5 separate regions of the Homo sapiens genome follow, and regions 2, 3, 4 and 5 are each reported to be linked to region 1. Evidence: microRNA targets listed by miRTarBase, many of them from high-throughput screens and not tested one by one. Region 1 holds a microRNA gene; each other region holds the end of a gene's coding sequence. Distances are between the middles of the regions.

Region 1 (5,103 bases):
AGTCATTCTAGATATCCCAGTTTCCTGCAGAGCTTGAACCTCTTTCAGCCCTAAAATTTTTTGGAATAATCTCTGAAGGAAATCTTCATAAAATTGATATGCATTACTGTCTTAAATAATATATGAATGTATTTTAATTTGTTTGGTATCAAAATGATCAGCATTAACATCACTTATTATAATCTGATAGACTAATCAGACATTGAGAGCTGTTTGTCCCTGTACTAAATGGCTCCATTCTGCTGTACTCGTTTTAGTTTTCATGTCTTTAACAGTCGTTCTGATTCTTCCATTTCTATTACTGCTTGCTTAAGTGTGCCTGTAGCAGTAGCCCTTCTCCACCTTCATAATGTGCCTTCTGATCTGCTTTCATTTTGGAGACCAGACAAACTAAGTTTATTAGACTTCTGTGTAAAGTAAGAATAAATAAACTCAAAGTGAAGACTTGAGGAAGTGGATTATGCTTAAATGCATGGATTTTGTGACATCTGTTACTTTACTACCTGTTTCATTGCTATCGTTAAAATAAGTGAAGCTACCGAATTAGATACCTGCTCTCAAAATAGAAAAGTTGTTATGGTACAAAAGGAACTATTTTGTTTACATACTTTACTTTCTCTAAAGTTAGTTCTATACTAGAATTATTTGGCGCTGATTAAAACTGGTCCACTCAAGTTAGCATTTTCTATAGTATTTTCTATTTGAATTGGAGACTACATGCTGTTAAGAATTTCTTTGGCTTTTTTTTTGTTGTTGTTTTGTTTTGTTTGAGACAGAGTCTCACTCTGTTGCCGAGGCTGGAGTGCAGTGGTGCAATCTCGGCTCACTGCAAGGTCCGCCTCCCAAGTTCACGCCATTCTTCTGCCTCAGCCTCCGGAGTAGCTGGGACTACAGGCGCCCGCCACCACTCCGGCTATTTTTTTGTATTTTTAGTAGAGATGGGTTTTCACCGTGTTAGCCAGGATGGTCTCGATCTCCTGACCTTGTGATCTGCCGTCCTTGGCCTCCCAAAGTGCTGGGATTACAGGCATGAGCCACAGCGCCCAGCCGGCTTTTTTTTTTTTTTTTTTTTTTTTTTTAAGAGAGAAATGTATCTTCATTTCCAAGACATGAAAATAGATTAAGCCCTGAAAAATAAGAAAACATTCACTATTAATGTCACAGAGACCTGAGAAGTAATAAAATTTATAGACTATAGGCAATTATACCACAAAGAATTTATTTTTTGATTATGCTAGTTTTAAAAACAGGGTCTTTATTTTTATTCAGCTATAGTAAGCGGACGTTAAAAGCTTACCAAAAGTTATCAGTGTTAGATCTAATGATATTGGCAGATATTTGAATGACTAAATTCCCACTGTCATTCTGTACTGGGCATGATTAAATTGTAATTTAATATTTAATAATTAAGCAGGATCACTTTTCTCTCTTGAATGAAAAATAAAATTTGCACACTATAATATTTACAAGTAAAAGTCAAATCTGTATAGAAATGGATATCCTAGCATCAAACAACTTATTTTTAGCAACATGCTGATTATTTTAGTAACCATATATTGACTCATGTTTTCATTACAAAGTAACTGTCAAATCAGTCTGTTTATTTTATGACCATGCCTCATAGTCGGCATTCAGTTATCCATGCTAATGGAAGGGATCTGTGGTATAATAATCATAAAAGATAAGTGGTCCAGGCTGGGCGCGGTGGCTCACGCCTGTAATCCCAGCACTTTGGGAGGCCGAGGCAGGTGGATCACGAGGTCAGGAGTTCGAGACCAGCCTGACCAACATGGTGAAACCCCGTCTCTACTAAAAATACAAAAATTAGCCGGGCGTGGTGGTGGTACCTGCCTATAATTCTAGCTACTCAGTAGGCTGAGGCAGGAGAATCACTTGAACCCGGGAGGCGGAGGTTACAGTGAGCCGAGATTGCGCCATTGCACTCCAGCCTGGGTGACAGAGTAAGACTTCATCTCAAAAAAAAAAAAAAAAGATAGGTGGTCCAAACCAGTTTCTTGAGTTGAGACTGCCATTATAGAAGAGATAGTCAAGATACCAAAGCCAGGTCAGTGATAAAAGAAGAAAACTTCTGAGTGTAGTTGTGAGAGGAAAGTGATTCTATTCAGTGTAATTGCTGTAAACCAAAAAGAGGATTAATTGATTCAAGGATTCACACATGTAAAAGTTTAGCATGAATAAGGAGGAACTGATTTTATAGATATTCTAAAATGTGTGATAAGCTAGGACGTAGTGGCTCACACCTACAATCCTAGCACTTTGAGAGGCTGAGGCAGGAGGATCTCTTGAGGCCAGGAGTTCAAGACCAGCTTAGGCAAGAAACAGCAAGACTTGGTCTCTACAGAAAAACTTAAAAATTAGCTGGATGTGGTGGCACACACCTGTAGTCCCAGCTGCTCAGTAGGCTGAGGCAGGAGGATCACTTGAGCCCAGGAGGCCACAGCTGCAGTGAGCCATGATTGCACCACTGCACTCCAGCCTGGGCAACAGAACGAGAGACCTTGTCTCAAAAATAAATAAATGAAAATGGGCTGGGCGTGGTGGTTCACACCTGTAATCCCAGCAGTTTGGGAGGCCCAGGTGGGCGGATCACCTGAGGTCGGGAGTTCAAGAACCGCCTGACCAACATGGAGAAACCCCGTCTCTACTAAAAATACAAAATTAGCCGGATATGGTGGTTCATGCCTGTAATCCCAGCTACTCAGGAGGCTGAGGCAGGAGAATCGCTTGAACCTGGGAGTCGGAGGTTTTGGTGAGCCGAGATTGTGCCAATGCACTCCAGCCTGGGCAACAAGAGTGAAACTCTGTCTCAAAAAAAAAAAAAAAAAAAAAAAGAAGGAAAATGAAATGTGTGATAAATTAAAGTGCATATAGTATTTTTTATGGTATATATTTTAATGTATTTTAGCTTGTCAGCAATGAAATTAGTTTTATCTCTATGTATTGAACTTCATTTAGCAACATATTATTGCAATAGTACAGTATTTAAGCTGCATATTCTCTTGACTGCATTATCCTTTAAAATCAGTATATTCTGTGAGATATGGCTATGGATATATATATTTCCTCTCCTATTTATATCCTAAGATTTTCTTAAAGGATAATTTTACTGTTTTAGGCTTTATGTTTTTCAGTTTTATATCATTTCCTAAAGCTTAGCTACCTACAAATGAATATTATTGAAGAATTTTTCTAAAACTAAAGCATGTCTTTTATAAGTTTACTCTTTTATAATATCCTAAACAAAGCATATCCTTTTCCCCTTCCTTAAGTAAATTCTTAAGGAAATTAACTTCATTTCTAAATCAAAGTATTTTCTGCACTTTTATTGCACCAATCTGTTACCTTCTGTTCATACCATGACTTAAATAATGCTTACTCAGGCACAGTACTATCAGCTGACAACGTACAGAAGGCTCCAGAAATGTCACTCCCATCCCTTAAAGGTTGGTATATGGTCCTGGTACAGTCGTGGAGGTCCATATGGGTGAAAAGCCCAGAAGTCTACCTGAGCTGAAAGCACTCCCAAGGAGTTTGGTTTTGTTTGGGTTTGTTCTAGGTATGGTCCCAGGGATCCCAGATCAAACCAGGCCCCTGGGCCTATCCTAGAACCAACCTAAGCTCGCGCATCATTCCTGGAACATCAAGAGTGTGAAGACTGAAGATAACCTGAGGCCTACCAGACATCCTATATTCACCAAGATTCACATTTTTTGGTATGTGTGCCTACATTTTAGCAAAAATTGGTTGGTTAATCCTTCTAAAATTAGAGGGATGACATTGGGTAACAAAGTCTTCCCAGCCTTTGGCATTATAGTAATTTCTCGCAATAGAAATTCCATACAGATATTATTGCCAGTGAAGAGAGCTATTCTTGTTTATTATCAGTTCTATATTTTTAGCTGAAGCAACTTAGCCCTAAAAAACCCCAAAATCAACTTCTTCCTCCAAATTAAACTCTCCCCCAAATTTAATGGTTTCTGTTTTCTTAAATGTTTTTCTACTTGACACTGTTATGTCAGTCTCATGTAACTGAATAATTGTTCATAATTTCTGAAGAGCATTTAGTCTTTGCCATCTGGCTTCAGTGCCAAATGATTTTCAATTCTTGTTTTTGGAGACTAATGACTTTTTCCTTAATTTATTATCAAATTTGCCACATTTTAGAGCTCACTTTTAGAAGTTCTGCTATGGTTAATGAAAACAAGCTAGAATGACACAGTAGAAATTGGTTAATACGTCACATTTTACATCACTATTTTGTAGAAGATTTTTAGTAAGTTTCTCTATTTTTATTCCTTGCCACTCTGGATTTTACAAATATTCTGACCTAGTTGATCCATCACATGGTCTCATATCACAACTGTTGCATCGCTATATTCACATAGATGTTTTTCTGTTTAATTTAGAAGACAGTATTTCTGAAAAAGTATGAAACGACCCCAAATCCAAAAGTTATGGTGCACAATGAAAATGTATGCTTTTAATAATGCTGGCTTCTGCAGTAGGTGTAGACCATGTTTCAAATAACCACAGACTAATCAGAAACTCCACCTGTGAAAGGAACTTGAAATTGTGCTATTCCTCCAAGCTTATAACACCAGCAAATTGGGTCAATAGGTTATTCCTTTAAAATAGGACTATGAGCCTACAGAGGCTCACTCTGAAGAACTCAGCCGTGGAGTTAGTTCTGTACTATATCCATCACAACAGACATGCTTCATCCCATAGACTTCTTGACATAGCTTGAAATGAGTGAACCCATCCTTGATTTATATACATATATGTTCTCAGTATTTTGGGAGCCTTTCCACTTTTTTAAACCTTGTTCATTATGAACACTGAAAATAGGAATTTGTGAAGAGTTAAAAAGTTATAGCTTGTTTACGTAGTAAGTTTTTGAAGTCTACATTCAATCCAGACACTTAGTTGAGTGTTAAACTGTGATTTTTAAAAAATATCATTTGAGAATATTCTTTCAGAGGTATTTTCATTTTTACTTTTTGATTAATTGTGTTTTATATATTAGGGTAGTACATTTCCTACCCTACCTGAAGACTTGAGATTATAGTCTTTGGGGGGATG
Region 2 (5,103 bases), not on the chromosome of region 1:
GCCATAGTCGTGTGAGGATGGCAAAGTCGAACAGGAAGCTTTGAGTGCCTTCCTCCACGATGTCAACGAGGAGATCCAGTGCCAGATCGAGGTGGATGGAACACCCAGGGGTAGGGGTGCAGGTGTGGGCAGTGATGTCCCTTCCCCTCCCTCCCCTGGTCCCACAGACTGTGGCCATGAGGCTGCAGGCTGGTGCTATGACAGCAGATTGCAGCACAGGGCCCTCCCCTCCAGCCCCCAGTGGGACATCAAAACCACCCTGGGGCCATTTGTGCAGGGCACCACCTCCAGTATTGATGGGGAAAATAAACTCAGTAGAGCCACGACAGGGTGGAGAGAAGCAGGGACCATTGTCTTCCTCAGGAGCGTGACAGCTGACCCCACAGACCATGCTTGCTGGTACACACTGGTCCCAGACCCAGGCCTGTCGGACATCAGCAGTGTGCTAAAAACGTGTAAGATGTCACTACTCACCGTGTGTCCTATCTAGTTGACATGGGTGGAGTCAGCTAAGGGGTGAATGTTCATATGCTCCCAATTCACGTTGAAGCCCTAATCCCCAAAGGGATGGTATTGGGGGTGGGGTCTTGGAGAGGTGATTAGGTTATGAGGGTGGAGCCCTGATGAATGGGATTAGTGCTTTATAAGGAGAGACACCAGAGAGATGATCTCTCTCTCCACCATGTGAGGACACAGTGAGAAGACAGCCGTCTGCAGGCCCGGAAGAGAGCCCTCACCAGGAAATGAAACTGTTGGCACCTTGAGACTTCCCAGCTTCCAGAACTGTAAGAAATAAATGTTTGTTGTTTAAGCCTTTCAGGCTACGGCTTTCTGTTACAGCAGCCTGAACTGAGAGTCCATGCCGAGTTTTTGAAATAAATGTGAATTCTGATGTTACTTCTTCCTTTCTGTACTTCTTGAAGCGTAGCTTGGAATCACAAAAACTAAAACACATTTTTAAAATTTAGCGCCCCCACCCCACCCCACCCCAGGAAGCAATGAATTTAGGAATGTTCCCTCCAATGTCTCCCATCTGTTAATTCTGTTGACTTCAACGAGAGGAAGACTATAGCTACTTGTGTTTTTCTATTTTTGGTAAAGGGCTACAAGGTTACAAACGGGTAAAGATATCTAGCTATTCCTTTGTCTCAAACTACCTCAGTTTTTTCAAGCCCCTAAGAAATGGCCATGCCTTAGGGTTAACCCTCCAATTTGCACTTATAAGGTAACCAACTGTCCTGGTATGCCCAGGACAGTCCTGGTTTTAGCACTCAAAGTACCACATCCCAAGAAACCTCTCCATCCCAAATGGGATGGTTGGTGGTGTCCTACTGCCACTAGTCATTCAGGCTGTGATGATGACATTTTTACCACAAATTGTCCAGTGTATATTTGATTACAAGCCAATTGGCTTATGCTCTGTCTGCCAGGCTTTCTAGCTCTGTGCTCCCAATATTGAGTTCCGATTCAGGTGAGGAATTAGAGAACTGGAACTTTTCATATATATTCTGCCCAGTAATTCTCTGCTACCCTAAAAACATGCATGTAAACACACAGATTCTTTACTTAGAGTTTAAAGGAAACATCAAAATCTACTGAAAATATTCATTCTCTTTAGGAACAATGTGGGTTTTTTCCTCAGATTTTTATTTTTGCACATTCTTGTGACATTTCCCATTGTAGGGAACAGGAGTTTAGCAAAATCAGCTTCTTAGATGATGTCATTCTAAATATACATCTTAAACAAACAATATCAAAACCACCAGTAGGAAACTGAAAAACACTCAGTGAGTACTGTTTTGTCTCAGTAACAATAAATACAAAAAGACTGGTTGTGTTCCGGCCCCATCCAACCACGAAGTTGATTTCTCTTGTGTGCAGAGTGACTGATTTTAAAGGACATGGAGCTTGTCACAATGTCACAATGTCACAGTGTGAAGGGCACACTCACTCCCGCGTGATTCACATTTAGCAACCAACAATAGCTCATGAGTCCATACTTGTAAATACTTTTGGCAGAATACTTCTTGAAACTTGCAGATGATAATTAAGATCCAAGATATTTCCCAAAGTAAATAGAAGTGGGTCATAATATTAATTACCTGTTCACATCAGCTTCCATTTACAAGTCATGAGCCCAGACACTGACATCAAACTGAGCCCACTTAGACTCCTCACCACCAGTCTGTCCTGTCATCAGACAGGAGGCTGTCACCTTGACCAAATTCTCACCAGTCAATCATCTATCCAAAAACCATTACCTGTTACAGCTAAAACAAAATCAGCACATCTCTGTCTGTATTAGAAACGACAAAACCTTACAAAGCAGTCACCTCCATACCAGTCTGACAATCACTAGTTCATTTGGCAGATGGACAACAAAGGTTTAAACTTGCTATTCCAATCAACTTTCTTTCCCTATCTGATTCATGGTGTTTTTAAAATAGTATCTTGAAAGCTGTGCTGCATTTCTCCTCCACTTATCAATGAAGAAAACGTGCTCTCCAGAAACTACCTGCGGTAGCCACTCCCAGGACCTGGGGAGACGTGCACCCTGGGGGTCTGAGGGCCTCCAGGTGAATCTGAGAGGGAAGACCCTCCAGTGCTGTCGTTGTAGCCTGGCTGAGGGTGGTGCTAGCTCAGACTGTTATTCCCCAGTGCGCCACAGTCAGTGCGATGATGCTGTGTTACTGGAAATACAGCTGAGACAGCATTATGTGAAAGAAGCTAGCCTGAACTAAAAAAAATGCGCTGCTAGCGAAACTCTTTTTATATATGATGCTACACTTTACAGACAGAAACTTTAAAACAATACTGACGTGTAAAATAAAATGAATCCAATGAAGCATGCTCATCCCAGTATCTTAAACTCGGTGGTGCCTATCTACAGGTCCACACTCCGCGGCCCATGAGCATGGGGGCCTTTCTCGCCCCCCAGGCCCGTCCTGGGTATCTCGGTGCTGGGCTGCAGGAGAGATATCCAGTTCCTTCCCCAAAACATCCTTCTATTTAATAAACTGTTTCCCTGGACAAAACACCCCAACTGCAATGACTTCTGTTCAAAGTGCAAAAAAAGCTTCCGTGAGGTGGGTTCATGGTTGTTATTGTATTCATCTTTCACCCTTGAGCTCAGAAAGACCTGCATCCCATGAATGGAGGGTTGGGAAAGGCATCTTTAAGAGGCACAGTCCACTGTGTGCTTCCAATTTTCCTGTACACAGCCAGCTTGCCGGTCCAGCTGCAGTCTGAGTATCGGCATTCTCTTCATTGTCTTCAAGGTCTACCTCCCACCAGTGAAATTAAATGTTTGGGTGCTAAGGGATAAGGTGCAGAGAAGCGCAAGTCTGCACAGTCTGATAGGAACTGGCCACTCCAGAAAAGGGCATTCAGACTGTGTGCTACTTAATGACCTAGTGCCAAAAAATGAAATGGTACTGTAAGCGATTCCCAATAATCATCTACCCTACCAGTGCCAGGGAACCTGTGCAAATAGAATGTGAAATATCACAACAGACTACAGCTGTCCTCGCCATAAATACTATATTGTTTAAAGTTCTGTACATAGAAAGCAATTCATTCAAGTCTTAAGATGAATTTAGCTCTATATGGCAAGTAATTTTTTCCTAAAGATGAAATCATTTAGCAAGAATTTTTTTAACATAAACAGTCTGCCTATTTCCCATTTCTTTTTGAAAAGACTTTTTAGAGTCTAAATTGTATTTATTTTTCCCCTAAAATGTTAGTCTGTTATTTCATATTAGCACATGCAAGCAAAATTTACTCTTAAATATATTACTTTAATCTGGTTAATGTTTTGACATCTATAATTAATTGTAGTTTCAAACAGATGCAAGCCATGTCTGTGACCAGGTGCAAAACATAGAAATTCATCTCCAGAAGTGGAGAGAAGACTCCAGGGAAAAAAGTGTTTTGTAAAAGTCCCAACTCAAAAATAAAATTGCAGTGCCTTTTAAGGCATGAATTAACTGGAAACCTTTACGGATTAACTATAAAGGAAATTGACCATGCCGGGAGTACTCTTTAAAAAAGTAAAAAAGGGGAGATTTTCATAGACTCCCTCGGCCTCTTAAAATAAGTTAAGGCCTTTGGATGTTGGCACGTCGCCAACAGGCTGCCATTAAAACAAAATGTTTCTGCTTATTAAAACCAATGCCCATCATTCTCCTCCTCCTCATTGTCTAGATAGAGGAGGGCAACTTTCTTTTCATCTGAAATCACCGACCTTTGGTCTACCATTCTCTGGAGCTGCACCTTCTTATCAAACATGGCCTGCTCCTTGCCCTGTTCTCTGTGGGCCTGGTCTCCTTCCCCAGCAGAGGCCTTAAAGCTCACACCAACTGCCTGGTCATTCCTACTGTCCGCGTCTCTCCAGGAACCACGGTCAGACACACCGAGAGCTCCCGCTTCCTGTGTCCGGCTGCGGATCGCCTCTACGTTACTCACATCCATCTGAAAGGTAAACGAAGTTTCTTTGGGCCCTGGTGCAATGTGCCTTAGCGTTCTGCTGCTGTCTGCTAACTTGCCTAGCTCAGGGGAGTCCGCTGAACCAGCAAGCACAAATGTTCTGGACACGGGTCCACGGATGGCAATGTGTTCAGAGGTTTCCGTTTCTGTAGGACCTAGTCGAATGTGCCTAAAGGATCTGCTAACACCCGATGTCATTTCTGCCCCTGATGTGTCCTCTGCACTATCCTCCTGGGGAGATTCAGAAACGACACTTTGGAAGGTGCTCTTTTCAGTCATAACGGTTTGTCTACCCGAGGTATGACTGTGAGTGGCCTGGTGCACATCTGCTGAGCCCTCTCCGTGCACAGTGCTCTCTGAGTCACCAGATTCCCCCAGTTGGGGAACCAGCCCATGGTAAACTATCTGCTGGGTGGTCTGATGCCTCTGAGGCCCAATGCTGATGTGCCTGATGGATGTGCTGCTCCCTGGCAACCCTTCCATGTGTACAGAATCTCCTATGACACCCAACTCCACCTTGTCTGAAAGTGGAGCTGTGAACTGGATTTGCCCACTGAACCCTTCTTTAGGGCCTAACTGGAGTTGCCTGACAGAAGTCTGGGTACCCACTGACTCTTC
Region 3 (5,103 bases), 41 Mb from region 1:
AGCGCTCCCCACCCTCCTCGGCCCCCTCTGGCCCCCGTCCTCCTTTCTCTCCTTCCCCCTCTCTCTCCAGGAGCGACTCTGGGTTAGCACAATTGAACTGGATTTACGAGCGAGAATGGGTAATTACATCCCCCATAAATTTTATGGCTTAGCTACTCTGGGCAGTCCGAGCCATGTGCTACGATCTGTTATGTATGTGTGAAAACTATGCTCGCTTTCTAAGGGCGCATAAATAATTCAGTGTCGTTACAATGAGGATTCCCCTCTTATTACACTACAAAGTCTTCAGCTTCCTTCAACTTCTTTATAACCCATTTAAGCTTGATGACTTTATTTCCACCACTCCCTCCTCCTGTTTCTCAGAGCTGAGGATGGGGTGAGGGTGGGGGGCGGGGAGCCTGCTGCCTCTGAACCCCACTATTTGCTTTTCCCCTCCCCCCAGTGAACCCCAATTATAACGGAGGGGAACCCAAGCGCTCGAGGACAGCCTATACCCGGCAGCAAGTCCTGGAATTAGAGAAAGAGTTTCATTACAACCGCTACCTGACCCGAAGGAGAAGGATCGAGATCGCCCACTCGCTGTGCCTCTCTGAGAGGCAGATCAAAATCTGGTTCCAAAACCGTCGCATGAAATGGAAGAAGGACCACCGACTCCCCAACACCAAAGTCAGGTCAGCACCCCCGGCCGGCGCTGCGCCCAGCACCCTTTCGGCAGCTACCCCGGGTACTTCTGAAGACCACTCCCAGAGCGCCACGCCGCCGGAGCAGCAACGGGCAGAGGACATTACCAGGTTATAAAACATAACTCACACCCCTGCCCCCACCCCATGCCCCCACCCTCCCCTCACACACAAATTGACTCTTATTTATAGAATTTAATATATATATATATATATATATATATAGGTTCTTTTCTCTCTTCCTCTCACCTTGTCCCTTGTCAGTTCCAAACAGACAAAACAGATAAACAAACAAGCCCCCTGCCCTCCTCTCCCTCCCACTGTTAAGGACCCTTTTAAGCATGTGATGTTGTCTTAGCATGGTACCTGCTGGGTGTTTTTTTTTAAAAGGCCATTTTGGGGGGTTATTTATTTTTTAAGAAAAAAAGCTGCAAAAATTATATATTGCAAGGTGTGATGGTCTGGCTTGGGTGAATTTCAGGGGAAATGAGGAAAAGAAAAAAGGAAAGAAATTTTAAAGCCAATTCTCATCCTTCTCCTCCTCCTCCTTCCCCCCCTCTTTCCTTAGGCCTTTTGCATTGAAAATGCACCAGGGGAGGTTAGTGAGGGGGAAGTCATTTTAAGGAGAACAAAGCTATGAAGTTCTTTTGTATTATTGTTGGGGGGGGGTGTGGGAGGAGAGGGGGCGAAGACAGCAGACAAAGCTAAATGCATCTGGAGAGCCTCTCAGAGCTGTTCAGTTTGAGGAGCCAAAAGAAAATCAAAATGAACTTTCAGTTCAGAGAGGCAGTCTATAGGTAGAATCTCTCCCCACCCCTATCGTGGTTATTGTGTTTTTGGACTGAATTTACTTGATTATTGTAAAACTTGCAATAAAGAATTTTAGTGTCGATGTGAAATGCCCCGTGATCAATAATAAACCAGTGGATGTGAATTAGTTTTACGTCAATGTCTGATGGTTTCTTTTTATTCCCCTCCCTCTCTGGCCTGGTAACATCCCATCTTCTCTATAGTTGCCTAAGTTTACTTTAAACAAACACACAAATCTTAGCTCTCCATTAGTCTTCCAATGTCCTTAGAAGAACAAGCAAGGGGGTTGGGGTATGGGATCTTCAGAAGAGGGGATGTGGAAGATTAAGGCTGATTTCTCCAGTCCCCTTCCTTCCCCCTGAGTCTGCAGAGAGACCAGACTCCTCTGGGGGCACTTCAGTGGAGCTGAGGGTGGGGAGTGTCTCACTTTTCTATAGTTAGGTACAGTTTCTTCTTTTTGTCTTTTCTCTCTCTTCCCTTCTCCCTCCTCTGTGCTGAGTAGGCCTGCCTACTTTGTAGACAAGGGGGCAAGTTTAGGGAGTGGGAAGGAGAATAGTTTTCTTTCATCTTTTAGGGCTCTTTTGGGATGAGGGATTAAGGAAGACATCCCCTCAACATTTGAGTTCTTAAAAGAAGGAAGGTTTTGAGCTGGTGACTCTGAAGCAGCAAAGTCACCTGTCAGGATGCCTTCTCTGTTTGTTTAGGCTTGGAAAAAAGACTGGCCAGAGGCCTGGGAGGTACCCTTGTTATGGATAGGCCTCAAAGGCTGATGCCTGGAGATAATAAAAGACTTTTACCTTTTTATTCTCTAACTTTTATTATGGACCTGCCAGGTGTTGCGAAGAGACTTAGGGAGAGTCAAGGACCACCCTCTCTTCCTATAACCTCCCAGGTCCTGGCAGCGTATGGGGATAGCCTGAACAAGTTTCTCTGGCTGTAAAGAAATAAATTAATTAAATAAATTTGTTTCCTTGGGGCTAAAAAAGAAACAAAAAATCTTGCCTGGATTACCTGAATACATTCAAGCCAAAGGCTCCCAAATAATTCTGGTCCTGAGATCCAGGCCCTAGCAAGGCCTGCTTAATTTTTTGCTTGTTTGTTAGGAGAAGGTGGGAGGAGGGCTGTTGGTGACCTTCTTCTCGGACGATTTATCCATATTTCAGGAAGAAAGGCAATTAGAAGTAGAAGACAGAGGGAGAAGAGATCTAGGGTATGCAGGGAAGCCAGGGATACCCCTTCCCCCTATCCCCAAATTCTGGAGTGAAAGGCAACAGCAGGACTAAGTTGTACAAATCACATTGGTGTGCTTTGAATTTATTTCCTTTTGAACCACTTGCTGGTTGTTACTTGGTGTGTGTGTGTGTGTGTGTGTGTATGCATGCCCTCACACGTGTGTGTGTTGGGGGGAGTCTCTTAGTCCTTTAGGTCTACTTTTCCTCCCTCAGTGGTACCCTGGAGACAACAAAACATGCTGCCTACAGTATGAGGAGGCAGGCCAACAATTATCTGGAGTTTTTTATGTAATCAAGTGAATTAGGGGCCAAATCTGACTGTAGCCCCTATCGTCTTGAGGCGATTGCCCTTGGAACAGAAAAAGGGGGTTCTAGCTGTGCTTAGGAAAAGGGAAGGAAGGTCTAAGGGCACCAGGGTGTCTTTTCAAGCCTGTAAAGGAGCTAAGATGGAAAGCAGGGAAGGGGTAAATTGAGATCCATGGTTCTTTCCTAAGTTTGCTCGCGTGGCTTTCAGGGAGTTTATCCCTCTCCTCCTGAAAGTGGAAGAGATGAGAGTGAGGAGGGGGAAAATTACTACATTTTATTTCCTAAGTTTCTCCCTGAAATTGCAGAAGGGACACTCTAGTTCAGGAAAAGCAGCATAAAAGGGTCAGAACACTTATTTTATTTCCCCTTCTTTATGTCTTCTGTTTCTTCTCCTTCCTCTTCCCTCACATACATGGTCATTCTGCATGTGTCTCCTTCTGTTCTTTCTGGTCTGAAAAGGGGAAACATCAGAAATCCATAATTCTTGACAAATGAACCCAAACTAAAATCCCTTACATTTGAGTTTGAAGATTTTGGCCTCTGGCCTTCCCTCCAGTGGGCTCCATTTTCTCCCCTTTCCCCAAAGCTCTCCTTTGCCTTGGACTTGGCAACCCAGAATGGCATGGCAGGGTTGGGATGTGGGGGGCCAGTCTGGGCCGAGGGCCCCAAGCTCCAGCAGTCTTGGTCCCTGCTGCTCTGCCTGATGCTGCTACAGCCTCGCTGGGAAGCTGAGGGCTGGGCTTTTATTTAAGTTGGGTTGAGCAGTGGGGAAAGGCTGGGGGGAGGACACAGCCCAGGTTCACGGGGAGGACACAGCATTTTCTCTCCCATTGCCTTTATATTCGGCAGCGCCTCTGACCTCTCCCCCACCCCCATCTCTGACCCTCCCAAGCCAGCCCTTGCTCAGCCCTGGTCTCCAGATAGGATGCCACTGCTTTTGTAGGACTGGGGATTTCTTGCCCAGAGTAATGGGAGAGGCAAGGCGCATGAATGCCTGTAAGTGCATTGTATCCCTCTCTCTTCAATGGCTAAGTAAAAAGAAGACGGGTGAAATGTCGACACCAATCTTCCAGGGTTCCTTCTCTCCAAGCGCCAGGAGATCCCCACAGGCCAAAGATCCCATTGACACGTAAGTAGTTAGCACTCGGTCTGCTCTGGGGGTGAGGAGCACAAAAGTTTAAACTCTTATTTGCCACTCAATTTTTGTCTCAACTCCCGGTCTTAGGCAGGGAAGGCGGGAAATCCAATTGTAAGCGGAGGGGTTCTGCTTGGAGAAAAAGACGGTTCTGTGCTGAGTCTGTGTACCTGGGGAGTAAAGAAATTTGGCTCAAAAAAGAGAGAGTCTGAGAAAGTGAGACTGAGGGAAAAGGACTGGGGCACTTTGCCTTTCCGAGGGTCTCTTGCTGCTGTTTGTGTGAAGTTTCCTACAAAGTTTTCTCTGCAATCTGTGCTTCAGTTTTCTTTCTGCTTGGACTTGGCAGATTGAAATCCAGAGACAGCTTCCCACAGCTAGGGGTGTGTGTGTGTGTGTGTGTGTGTGTGTGTGTGTGTGTGTTGGGGGGAGTTGTAGGGAAGTGAAAACAATTAAAAGGTTTGCTGGGAGCTTGGAGCCAGGGTGTCCTTCTCTGCTTTTCTAGGATTAGGGGAGACTGACTCTGAAAGGGGCCCTTAAGATCAAGGGTGCTATGACGGGGAGGAGCAGTGCGCTGGAGCAACTGTACCATCTTTTTCTCTGCCTTTTGCCCAGTCCTGGGGGAGCAAGCTATTGCACTCACAAAACCACCGCTCCGGGTTTTCCACAGCTTCTATCTGGCACTGCACCTATGGAGAGCTAATTTTAATTTAAATGTTCCCCTTCCAAGAGACCCCTCTCAGGCTTGGAATGAGAGATGGAAGATCCCTGAACACCAGAACTCCAGCGGCCACCAGAGCAGAGGGAATATTTATTACCTCTCTGGATGTCATTACCTAAGAATACAATTTTATGAACTTCCTAATCTGTTAGCTTGATTTATCTGGATGGGCAGGAGCCCAAAATAAACATTTGGGGGATTTGTTAAAAAAAAAAAAAGTCT
Region 4 (5,092 bases), not on the chromosome of region 1:
GTAACCTCCCCTGGCCCAGTCAGCCCAGAGAGCCTGACTGGAATGCTCTGGAAAAGGAGCTGTGGTTAGACGGGGGACACAGAGTTCTGGCTGTCAGGCTCCACTTGGGCTAAACCAATTCCAGATGGTCCCGCGCAGGGGACTCCGCTCGTATCCCTCTGCTCCCTCCTGGGCTTGAGCCGCTTACTAAGTGATTTAAAATTCAGAGATTCTGTCAGCTAAAGAAACTCCTTTCTCCACCCAACTTGGCAGTTTGTGTCTGGTTATTACCCTCTTTCGCCATCACTGTCACAGCAATGAAAAGCTGGGCAGAGAAGCAGGTGACAATTTGGGGCTGCTCCCTGTCCCAGGTGCACTGTTCATGCTTCGGGCCTGGAATGATGCCACCCAACAGAAGATTGTCTGCACCCGCACTGGCGCTCACGAGTAGCAGCTTCCGCCATCCAGCGAGCTGAGAAGCTGGGGCCGTTGGCTAGTTTGGCACTGATGGATTGGGGGATGTGGCGTTTCTGGGTGTCCCCTGTGTCTTTTGATATGGGAATACAGCATCAACAGAAGGGAGCTGTGCTAGCGCCTGGCTGTGACCAAGTATCTCCAGCTCACTGAGCTGTCAAGACCGGCAATCCCACTGGCTATGACAAGCCCACCAGCAGGCAGGGCCGGGAGGGGTAGACCTGGGGGGAGCTCGACGACATACAGTATTGTCAGGAGAGGAGGTAGTAACTAACAACTGGAACAAGGGTGGGGGAGACTGTGGATGTGGCCTTAATGACCTAGCCCCATGGGTACTGGAAAGCTGTCGGTCAATTCTGCTGTTCACAAATTCACTGAAAGAGGCCCCCATCTTCATAATGTTCAAGTACAGACAAAATTGAAATTGAGGTCACACCCCAAAACTGGGCCGGACACAGCTGGTGAGAATCCTGCAGCTTAAGGCTTTCCCTCCAACCTCCTGTCAACCTGACCCCAAGGCAGGGGCAGCATGAGAGCTGCAGGGCCCCTGCCTGCCAGGGCGATAAACCGCCAAGGCTGCCTGCTGAAAGGCGACTGACTCGTGATGCCTTTGGGAAAGACGAGGGAATGAGGAAGAAAGGGGGAAATAGAGAGAAAACCCTAAGGAGCCTCAGGCCCCACTGGCAGCTCTGGAATAAACTGGAAGGGAAAGAGGCTGGGCAACTGCCTCTTTGAGGGAGCTGCAGGTGGGGCCCGAATGAAATAAAGTGACGCTTGAAATGCTGTGTTCCCAACCACGACTGCCCCATCGGCCCTGAATGAACTGTCATGGGTGACAGGGGGGCCTGGTGGGCCACGCACTCCTCTTACCAGGACCAGATGACGCCCAGGTGACGGGGAAGCAGCTCTGGACAATGATTCCAGAAGCCACATTACATTTGACTAAGTATAATACATAAAAACCCAACTGACCAAAATAAACATCTTCTCAGTGACAACCTGGTCGGATGCTGCGCTCTCGTGGATAAGTGTCCTTTGGTAGTGCCAGGAGTTCGAGGCCACTATGGGGGCAGGAGCCTTCTGTCCTTGGAGGAAGAGTTCTGGAGGACTCACCCTCTCTTCTGACCCCCCTTCCCTTCCTGGGGAAGAGTCAGAAGTGAAGCTGGGGGGGTCATCAGCAGAGCAGGTGGAAGGGATCAGGGATCAGGGATTGGGCTGATGGGAGTTTGGTTGCAGGACTTGCTTTTACAGCATAAGGAAATGGACACATATATGCTAGAAAGTCCAACTATGAGACTCTACAAACAGAACGGGGCAAACTCCCTCACTTCTAACCATTCCAGAAGAGACAAACACGGTTTTTTCTTAAGCTACTGATTGGAACTGTCAACTATGGTTCCTGATCACTAAAGACTGGCAAGGAAGTGCTAGACAGTTTCTATGATGTTTCACTCCTTCATGATTACACCATAGTAAGGAAGCCAGGGACAATAACTGAAATACACAAGACAACACACACTTGACAGTTCATGGCAGCAGCTCACATGGGACATGCCTGTGGGTGTTTCTGGAAGCATAAGACTGCTGTCTCATTTGCTACTTTGATAAGGTACTTCTCAGTTGGACAGATTTAGATATAAGAGACATCTCTGTAAACACAGAAAAGGATATACCAATATGATGAAGATATGCAGCTAGATAAGGACTTCCTGAACAGAGGTTAAAAAGATGGGATCCCACATGAAAACTGATCAATTAAAAACCCACAGCAAGCCCATGCCTCTAAGCCCCTACACCACAGCTATGGACCAGACAGACAGTGAAATGTGTGGTGTTCTGGCCCCCTGTCTGCATCGAGCAAAAGCAAAACATTGCCATTCAAGAAGAACTCCGAGGGAAAAGGGGGAGCAGAGGAAGGGCTGGGGACCCAGGTACTGGTCCCAGCTCGGGTCTTGGGAGTTCTGCATTGGTACCGCTACTGCCCTGCTGCACTACGCTAGACTCTGGACTTCTGAGTGAGGTCAAGGTCGGCTGGCATGGAGCCCCTGTTGGGCCACTCGATGACTGGCAGGCCACAGGAGGCCTCTGTGCTTTCCTCAACTACCAAATCGGGCCCAGCTCCTCCAGTCCACTTCTCTAGAGTAGAAGGGTGAAAAGGCTCGTTGTTCAGGGTGGGAAATGCCTTTTGCTTTTTCTTACCAGGGAAGAGGGGGCTACCTAGGAGAGCAAGACCTTGCTGCTCTCTTGCTCTTCACAGACAGGCCAGGTCGGACTCAGCAGAGCCCAAGGCCTCCTCAGGGCTCAAAACAGGGTGGGGCTGGTACTGGCAGCAGGAGGACAAAGGGCAGGCAGAGTTCTGGGGACTGGAGCCGACAAGTGTGGTTGGGCACCGCGGCTGCCTGGAAGAGAAGGGATGAACTAGGAAGGAGGAGGATGGAGGAAGGGAAAGAAGTGAAAGGATGAAATGAACAAAAGGCAGAAATGGAAGGGGAGAAGAGAAACCAATCAGGAAGTCCTTATAAAATTGCAGCAAACACTTAGAGTTTCGGAGCTTCGTGGGAACCCTATGTGCTGAGCCCACTTTAAAACAAGCGCAGGTATATATACAAATCCAGGTAGTTCTCAACACTGTCACATCTGGTGGCTTGAGGGACTAAATGTCACCAATTCAAGCCAGTTTGCTCTCAGAGCATCTGTTTGTTTTGAAGTGGGAACATGAAGACTCAATAGTGCAAATAATTCTAAGCTGTCCCTAAAGGAGAATTGGAAAGTAACTGGAAGAACATTTTCTTCTCCTCCCCCTTTGCCCCCTCCCCTGTCCACTAAGTCACAGACTGCTCTGAGTGATTAGGAATCCCTCTCACCCCGCTGTGCTCTGCCCGGCCTGACCCCAGGCCAGCCTGCCTGCACCTTGTCCTACTGCCTCCATGGCCTCTAGCGCCACCCGTTGGAGGACGTCCCTTGAGAATGGACCATGCCACCTCACCCTGGGCCATCCTCTCCTGTGGTTCAGGCCAGTCTACACCCAGTAGTTCAAGGGACTCCCCCCTCCTAGCCATGCCAGAGCTGGAGCAGACAGGTGCCACTTTCCTGTCCTGTGAAGCGTCCTTGCCAGTTTTGGATTGGGGCTGGTGTGGGGCCAGACTTGAGCCACCACGGGTGGGATCGCACAGGCCATAGCCACTGGTCATATCCATCTTCTCTAAAGAATCCAACTGTCTCTCCTGCCTCACACCTCCCTGTCCCAACGTGGTTGGGAGTGGGGGAGGTGGGGGGAGCTGGGGGAGCTGTAGACGGGGCACTGATGGCACCGAAAACGGGAGTGTCCTCTCAACTGCTCTGTCGCTCTGTCTCTAACGACCACATGGGGGAAAGGTTTGGGCGGGAGGGGAGGTGCCTGGTCAACAGCTTGTCTGGTCAGTAGTATCTGCAGCAAGCCTTGTTGAAGGAGCCTAGTTTAGAAAAGTGCAAAGCTACTTCTGGCCCTGGTTAGGTCTTCAACCTGACTGTGCTTGTCGGTAAGAAAAACATCCCCAATGCTCCAACTACTCCCACCCTGAAGCCACGAAACTCTAAGTTTACTGAAAGAAAAAAAAATATTTTTTATTTCAGTTAATCGGGAAGCTTTGTCAGAGCCCTACCCATAAGGAGAAGAGACAACAGCTGCCTTTATTCTTGTTGGTTTGCTTTGCAATCCGCTCCGTGTAAAGTCAGCTAACTCTCTCGGTCACGGGCGTCCGGCTGTCCACAGGCTCCTCTCTGTTTGGCCTTGGCATGGAGGATGAAACAATGTCTTTGCGCTCTCCCTCCCCTCGGTGTTTGTACTTTTCTGCGGCCGTGGCGGCGGTGGCAACCGCGGGCTGAGTCTTAGCTGGCTCCTTGGGGCAGCCGTCGCTCTCCAGTGAGCCTCCTCTGGGCATCTTCTCCTCTTTGCAGACGCTGCTGCTCAAGTCCTGGGGCTCAGGGGGGCTGGTGGGGTCCTCGGAGCTCTCGGGCTCAGGTGGAGGTGGGGGCAGGGGTGGGAGCAGTGGCACGGGGGCCTTTGGGGACTCTGAGTGGTGGTGATGGTGGTGGTGCTCCTTCTTGGGGGGTGAGGAGGCGCTGCTGCTGCGCCCCTTGGGGCTGCTCTCCTTGCTTTTCCGCCCAGGGCTCTTACAGGTCTTCAGTCCTTTCCCGCTCTTCTCACCGAGGGTGGACACCAGCAGGGGCTTCACCACTTCCTTGACCTCGATGCTGACCGTCTCCCGGGTCTTGCGCTTCTTGATGGGGAGTACGGTCTCCTGCACAGATCGGATAGAAGACTCCTTCACGGCTTTCTTTTTGGCCTCGGCGGCAGCGGCTGCCACCACACTCCCCGGCTTTCGGCCCCGTTTCTTGGGAATGGCCTGAGGGTCGGCCTCAGCTTTTCGCTTCCTGCCGGGGCGTTTGATCACCATGACCTGGGTGGATGTGGTGGCCCCACCCCCCTCAGCCTTGCCCCCTGGCGAAGTTTGAAAAGGCATCTTGACAAGGAGCTTCCCAGGACTTTTCTCCAGGACCCTTTTCACCTGCACACCCTCTGACGTGGCCGCCTTGGGTCTCGTGGTGCCGCTCCCTTTGGGGCGTCCCCGGCCTCTGCCAGTTCCTGGAGCTTTGGGAG
Region 5 (5,103 bases), not on the chromosome of region 1:
GGTGTGGTTGGCCTGGGGGAGTCCATGGGGTGGGCGAGGTGAAGATAGAGCCAAGATCAGGTGCAGCTGGGATGCGGGGCCCCCTGTATCGGTAGTAATGGGCCACAGGTGAAGAAACTACCTGTTGACTTTTATTTCAGCTGCATTTTCTTTCTTTAAGGATGTCTGTCTTTTTCTTTCTTGTTACATGTTTGTTGTAACAAATCTAAACAATATAGGAGAGTGATTTAAATAGTGGAAGTCTAAGGTGCTCACATTCTCCTGGCCCTGTGCAGATGTGGTAGTGAATAGATGTATGTCATAGGCTGCCAGTTGGGTCAGAATTGGAGAATTTGCTGCAGAATCAGCGGGAGGGCAGGGATGGGAGCAGTAGCGGTGAGCCCACTGCTCAGGCAAGCATCTCTTCCAGTTCCTCCTGCTCTCCGTGGCCTGGTGCGCCCTCACAAGAAGCGGAAGAAGCTGTCTTCCTCTTGTAGGAAGGCCAAGGTACGGCTCCTGGGGACTGCGGACAGCCCCAGGACTCCTCCCAACCTGCTCTTTTGTCATCACCAGAATGTGGAGGCGCCTTGCCCTAGGGAGGGGAAGAGAGGGTGCCCTAGGGAGGGGAAGAGGGGGCACCCTAGAACCGGGCCCCAAAAATCTGGTGTGGGATAGGGGTACTTTTGCAGCCGCCTGCAGGCCCTGCTTTTCTTTCCCCAGCTGCCTTTCCCCATTTCCTTATCTGCAGCACCTTCTGGTCGTGTTGGCCAGTTGCCGGCACGGCTCCCTTTGTGTCTTTCTCAGTTGGGTGGGTGGGTGGGTGGATTGTCTGTCGGCCTGATTCCCCCAACTAACCTGTGACTTTGCCTCCTTAGAGAGCAAAGTCCCAGAACCCACTGCGCAGCTTCAAGCACAAAGGAAAGAAATTCAGACCCACAGCCAAGCCCTCCTGAGGTTGTTGGGCCTCTCTGGAGCTGAGCACATTGTGGAGCACAGGCTTACACCCTTCGTGGACAGGCGAGGCTCTGGTGCTTACTGCACAGCCTGAACAGACAGTTCTGGGGCCGGCAGTGCTGGGCCCTTTAGCTCCTTGGCACTTCCAAGCTGGCATCTTGCCCCTTGACAACAGAATAAAAATTTTAGCTGCCCCAGTTTGTGCCTCCAGCATATGAAAAGGACTATTTGAATCCCCAAAACATCAGGAGTCGGGAAACTTCGGAAGACAGCTGTGCCTGGCTCTGTGGCTGCATGCAGTGCTTCACTTGGCCAGCAGAGGTCAGCTGTGCCGAGCTGCCCCAGCCATGAGAAGAGAAGCCTGCCCTTGCTGGCAGGTGGCTATGGCCGGCCCAGAGCCTTCCTGCCCAGCTCCTGCAGCCCTGCTGCCTGGGATCAGGCTGGGAGATGGGCCTTCCTGACCGCCAGCCTTCCTCTCCCCGAGCACACGCACATGTAGATTCGGGGGGAAGCTGCCTGCTCTTCCTTAGAGGAGCCGGGGCAGCTATCTGCTGGTCCCTTTCTGAACAACTGTTGATGTGTGAGCTGTGTCTGTGTGTTATGTGCATAAGCGGTGGTGTGACATACACACATGTGTACTGTCCCTTATGCCCTGGCCTGAGCTCTCCAGCTGCCTTCTCAGCCTGAAGGCTGGGCTTCTCTGCTGGCTTGGGGTCCTAGATTGCATGTCACCTGCTTACCAGGCGTCACAAGGCCATGCTGGGGGCATGAGGAGGTTGGGGCAGCAGGAGAGTGGGGAGAAACTAGGAGAGTGCCTGAGTATTTTAGAAAGAACCAAGTTTTTTCTCGGCAAAAGCTTATACAGAGACGAAGGAGTCTGTGTCTTTGGTCATGGTAGGACTGAAGCTAGCAGGACCCGAGATTTGGGGCCTCCATGATCCCTGCTCCTCTTCTGTTAACACCCAAGGATTTCCACGAAGCCAGTGTGTATGATGGGGGCAGGACAGTGGTACTTTCTGGGCAGGTGTGAACTAGAGCTGCTAAGGAGCTGCAGACGATATTCTTGCAGTTTGGTGGTTAGCAGTATTCAGAAGGACAAAGAGTTAATGGAACTGGAGATAAAGAGCAACCATTTGAGCATCTGCTGGGAGACATCTGTCAACTGCACAGACCCTATCAGTGGGCATCGCTGCCACCTCTTGGAAGACAAGACAGGGCAGAGAGTGCCTGCAGTGCTGAGGCCTGGTCCTTGCCCTAGGTTGGCCTTCCCACCTGGCTTCATGGAGTGCTGAGGCTGGTCCTGGGGACAGTGAGTGCTCTGGATGTTTTAGCCAAGCTGTGTTCTAAAGTGATGCACAGTCTGTCTCCACTATGTTTATCTCTCTGACCCTGTCACTTCCAAGCACACCCTACCAAGAGCTTGTATCCCAGAGCCACCCTGATGGAGAGGAGATTGGTTTCCCCAGTGATTTCCTTCTTTGGGGGGTGGGGTAGAGGAACATGGAGCCAGCCTTATGCTGTATTCGTGCCTGGGGATAGCAGGGTCTGGGCCCGGAGCAGAGGAGCTTGGGTAAAGATATGGAGGCTGTTTGTTCAAAGTGTACATTCCTTCCTCCTAACGGCATCCCTGGGGGAAGCTATTTCTATGTTTTAGGTGGGGAAGATGAGGCTTAGAAGTTGCCTGGTGAATGAGGTTCTTTGCAAGATTTGGGTTCTGGCCTGTCCACCCTGGTGGAGTAGCTGGTACCACGGGGGCTTTTGCTGTGGGGTTAGGCACCATGTGGGCGCTCTGGGGCCAGGGCATTGGAAAGAATGGGAGGATTGCTTGAGCCCAGAAGTTCGAGGCTGTATGATCACGCAACTGCACTCCATCCTGGGCAACATACTGAGACACTCTCTCTCTTTTTTTTTGAGACAGAGTCTCACTTTGTTGCCCAGGCTGGAGTGTGGTGGTGCAATCTCAGCTCACTGCAACCTCTGCCTCCTGGGTTCAAGCAATTCTTCCCGCCTCAACCTCCTGAGTAGCTGGGATTACAGGTGGCCGCCACCACGCCTGGCTAAGTTTTTTATATTTTTAGTAGAGACAGAGTTTCACCATGTTGGTCAGGCTGGTCTTGAACTTCTGACCTCAGGTGATCCACCCACCTCGGCCTCCCAAAGTGCTGGGATTACAGGCGTGAGCCACCATGCCTGGCCGTGAGACTCTATCTTTAAAAAATAAAGAACAGGAAGGTCCATCTTCGTGTCCTGAGACTACAGAGAGAAAGTAAGTATAAATGGCTCGTTCAACACCCCACCTGGGAGGCAGGTACCATGTGCCCATTTACGTGTGAACAAACAGGCACTCAGGGTTGGCCTCTTGGACTTAGTCTGGCCAAAGCCTGTGCCCTTTGCACAAATGTGCAAATCAGGACTGGGGCAGGCCTTGGATGAGGGTATGTGTGCTATGGGCAAATGAACCTAGGGCTGTCCAGGGCCAAACAGCACAGAGGGCATGTGGGCCTGGAAGGGAGGAAGGAGGTGTGGCACATGCTGCGTGGAAGCCTAAGGCTTCACTAAACAGCAGAGAAGCTTGGATGGTTTTCAGGCTGGTGACGCCCTGGGCTGAAGCAGGAAGGTCAGGAGAATGCAGTGGCCTCTCCACTCTGGGCTGGCACAGTTTTGCCCACATGTATACCTGAATGGGTGCCTGGCTGTGTGGACTGTGCTATGGTCTGGAATCAGATGGACAAGGCACAGTCTATGAGGCAAGGAGCAGAGATGGTCAGCCAATGCAGACTGCTCAATAGTCATGTTGGGAGTTCAGGGTACTGGAGGGCTATAAGGGGCCCTCACCCAGTTGGAGAGAATGCTGCCTTCCTTGAGAAAGTGAGGTTTATGCTGAGATGGGAAGGGTGGGAGGGAACAGCAATCCTAGCAGGGGAGACAGCATGTGCAAATTCCCTGGGGTGGGAGGGATCCCTGCACATTTGAGGGTGAAAAGACCAGAGGGTTGTTACCAAAATATGCAATGGGGGCTGAAAATTTGATTTTTTAAAAAAATGTAATAGTCACATATTAAAAATTCAAAGGATACAGAAGATGGAGGGTTTTTGAAAACAAGGGCATTCTTTTTTTTTTTCTTTCTTTTTTTTTTTTTTTTTTTTGAGATGGAGTCTTGTTCTGTCACCCAGGCTAGAGTGCAGTGGCGCCATCTCGGCCCAGTACAACCTCCGCCTCCTGGGTTCAAGCGATTCTCCCGCCTCAGCCTCCTGAGTAGCTGGGATTACAGGCACCCACCATCATGCCTGGCTAATTTTTGTATCTTTGTGGAGATGGGATTTCACCATGTTGGCCAGGATGAACTCCTGACCTCGGGTAATCCACCCGCCTCGGCCTCCCAAAGTTCTGGGATTACAGGCGTGAGCCACCACACCCGGCCAACAGCATTCTGATGATATAGCTGGTGATAGCAGATGGGAGGACAGTGGTGTGCCCAGAAACCTCTGGACCTGGAGCACAAAAGGCTCAGGGTGCATTCCCAGCCCAGCGGATTCTCTGCCTGCATCTGCTAAGGATGAATGACTCAGCTTTGGGGGAATTAGTTGTGAGACTTTGGACTTCAGGGGCGGGGCCCCAAGAGGCAATGGTGATAAAGTTGAATTTGAGCAGGGAAGGTGCCCCGTCAGCTGTCATCCTTTTCCCCAGGAACATCATTATGTAAGACTCCTGCCTTGTGGAACAGGCTGTGAGTTGCTGCTCTTCCATTCCTCACAGCCATGTTTACAAGGGTAAGGAAGGGAAGGAGTGGTTCATCATTGCAGAGAGGAAGGTGCCTTGGCCAAGCAGACCTGCTCTGTGCCAGGCATGACACTGGGCAAATGCACAGTATTTAGTTTATTTATCCTGAAATGCTTTCAGAACTCAATGCATCCAGTGTCTTGTTATCCCTCCAGCCTATCCGCAAACCTGCTGAGATGCAGTAGGTTTGGCGTAGAATGCACTGAGGGTATCTGTGGCAACAGTGGGCTAAAGAACAAGGCACATCAAGGGGGTCTTCCGACGAACACCCCAAGGGTTGCCTCCACCACGCAGCATCCTGCTGTGGCTCGCCTCAATGTCCCAGGTGCTCTGTGGGCACAGTGGCCAGGTCAGACCATGATGGCCACTTTCTGACTGTATGGTCTCATA

What was found. The annotated mature microRNA hsa-miR-331-3p reads GCCCCUGGGCCUAUCCUAGAA and lies in region 1 at 3,609-3,629, shown strand. An mRNA with a match to its seed (bases 2 to 7 or 8) in the 3' UTR can be bound and repressed. Matches are read on the target gene's strand: a 7mer-m8 pairs with bases 2 to 8, a 7mer-A1 pairs with bases 2 to 7 and ends in A, and an 8mer does both.
Region 2: the mRNA of SYNM is a reported target of hsa-miR-331-3p. The part of its 3' UTR that is shown has no 7-base or 8-base seed match.
Region 3: the mRNA of HOXC4 is a reported target of hsa-miR-331-3p. Seed matches in the 3' UTR shown: 7mer-A1 at 1,159-1,165 and 8mer at 1,270-1,277.
Region 4: miRTarBase lists MECP2 as a target of hsa-miR-331-3p. Seed matches in the 3' UTR shown: 7mer-A1 at 3,265-3,271, 7mer-A1 at 517-523 and 8mer at 7-14.
Region 5: miRTarBase lists DDX56 as a target of hsa-miR-331-3p. The part of its 3' UTR that is shown has no 7-base or 8-base seed match.

Annotation. Positions count from the first base shown.
Region 1 is chr12:95,304,872-95,309,974 of GRCh38, forward strand. It overlaps MIR331 (microRNA 331), which reads left to right and starts at 3,549; the gene lies at 3,549-3,642. It overlaps MIR3685 (microRNA 3685), which reads left to right and starts at 5,052; the gene lies at 5,052-5,103.
Region 2 is chr15:99,132,117-99,137,219 of GRCh38, reverse strand. It overlaps SYNM (synemin), which reads right to left. Exons shown (of 4, transcript NM_145728.3): 4 at 1,627-5,103. The coding sequence ends at 4,162. It overlaps TTC23 (tetratricopeptide repeat domain 23), which reads left to right. Exons shown (of 14, transcript NM_001288615.3): 14 at 1-897. Among named protein-coding and RNA genes, the nearest start is that of TTC23-AS1, 4.6 kb to the left of the region's middle. RefSeq lists an enhancer at 1-456.
Region 3 is chr12:54,054,408-54,059,510 of GRCh38, forward strand. It overlaps HOXC4 (homeobox C4), which reads left to right. Exons shown (of 2, transcript NM_153633.3): 2 at 443-1,623. The coding sequence ends at 798. FLJ12825 (a long non-coding RNA gene) reads left to right here and starts at 3,847. Exons shown (of 2, transcript NR_026655.1): 1 at 3,847-4,157. RefSeq lists an enhancer at 3,244-3,745.
Region 4 is chrX:154,026,204-154,031,295 of GRCh38, forward strand. MECP2 (methyl-CpG binding protein 2) reads right to left here. Exons shown (of 3, transcript NM_001110792.2): 3 at 1-5,092. The coding sequence ends at 4,164. Among named protein-coding and RNA genes, the nearest start is that of MIR718, 8.8 kb to the left of the region's middle.
Region 5 is chr7:44,561,831-44,566,933 of GRCh38, reverse strand. DDX56 (DEAD-box helicase 56) reads left to right here. Exons shown (of 14, transcript NM_019082.4): 13 at 410-486; 14 at 855-1,130. The coding sequence ends at 932. Among named protein-coding and RNA genes, the nearest start is that of DDX56, 9.5 kb to the left of the region's middle. RefSeq lists enhancers at 771-1,270, 4,683-5,103 and a silencer at 1,124-1,335.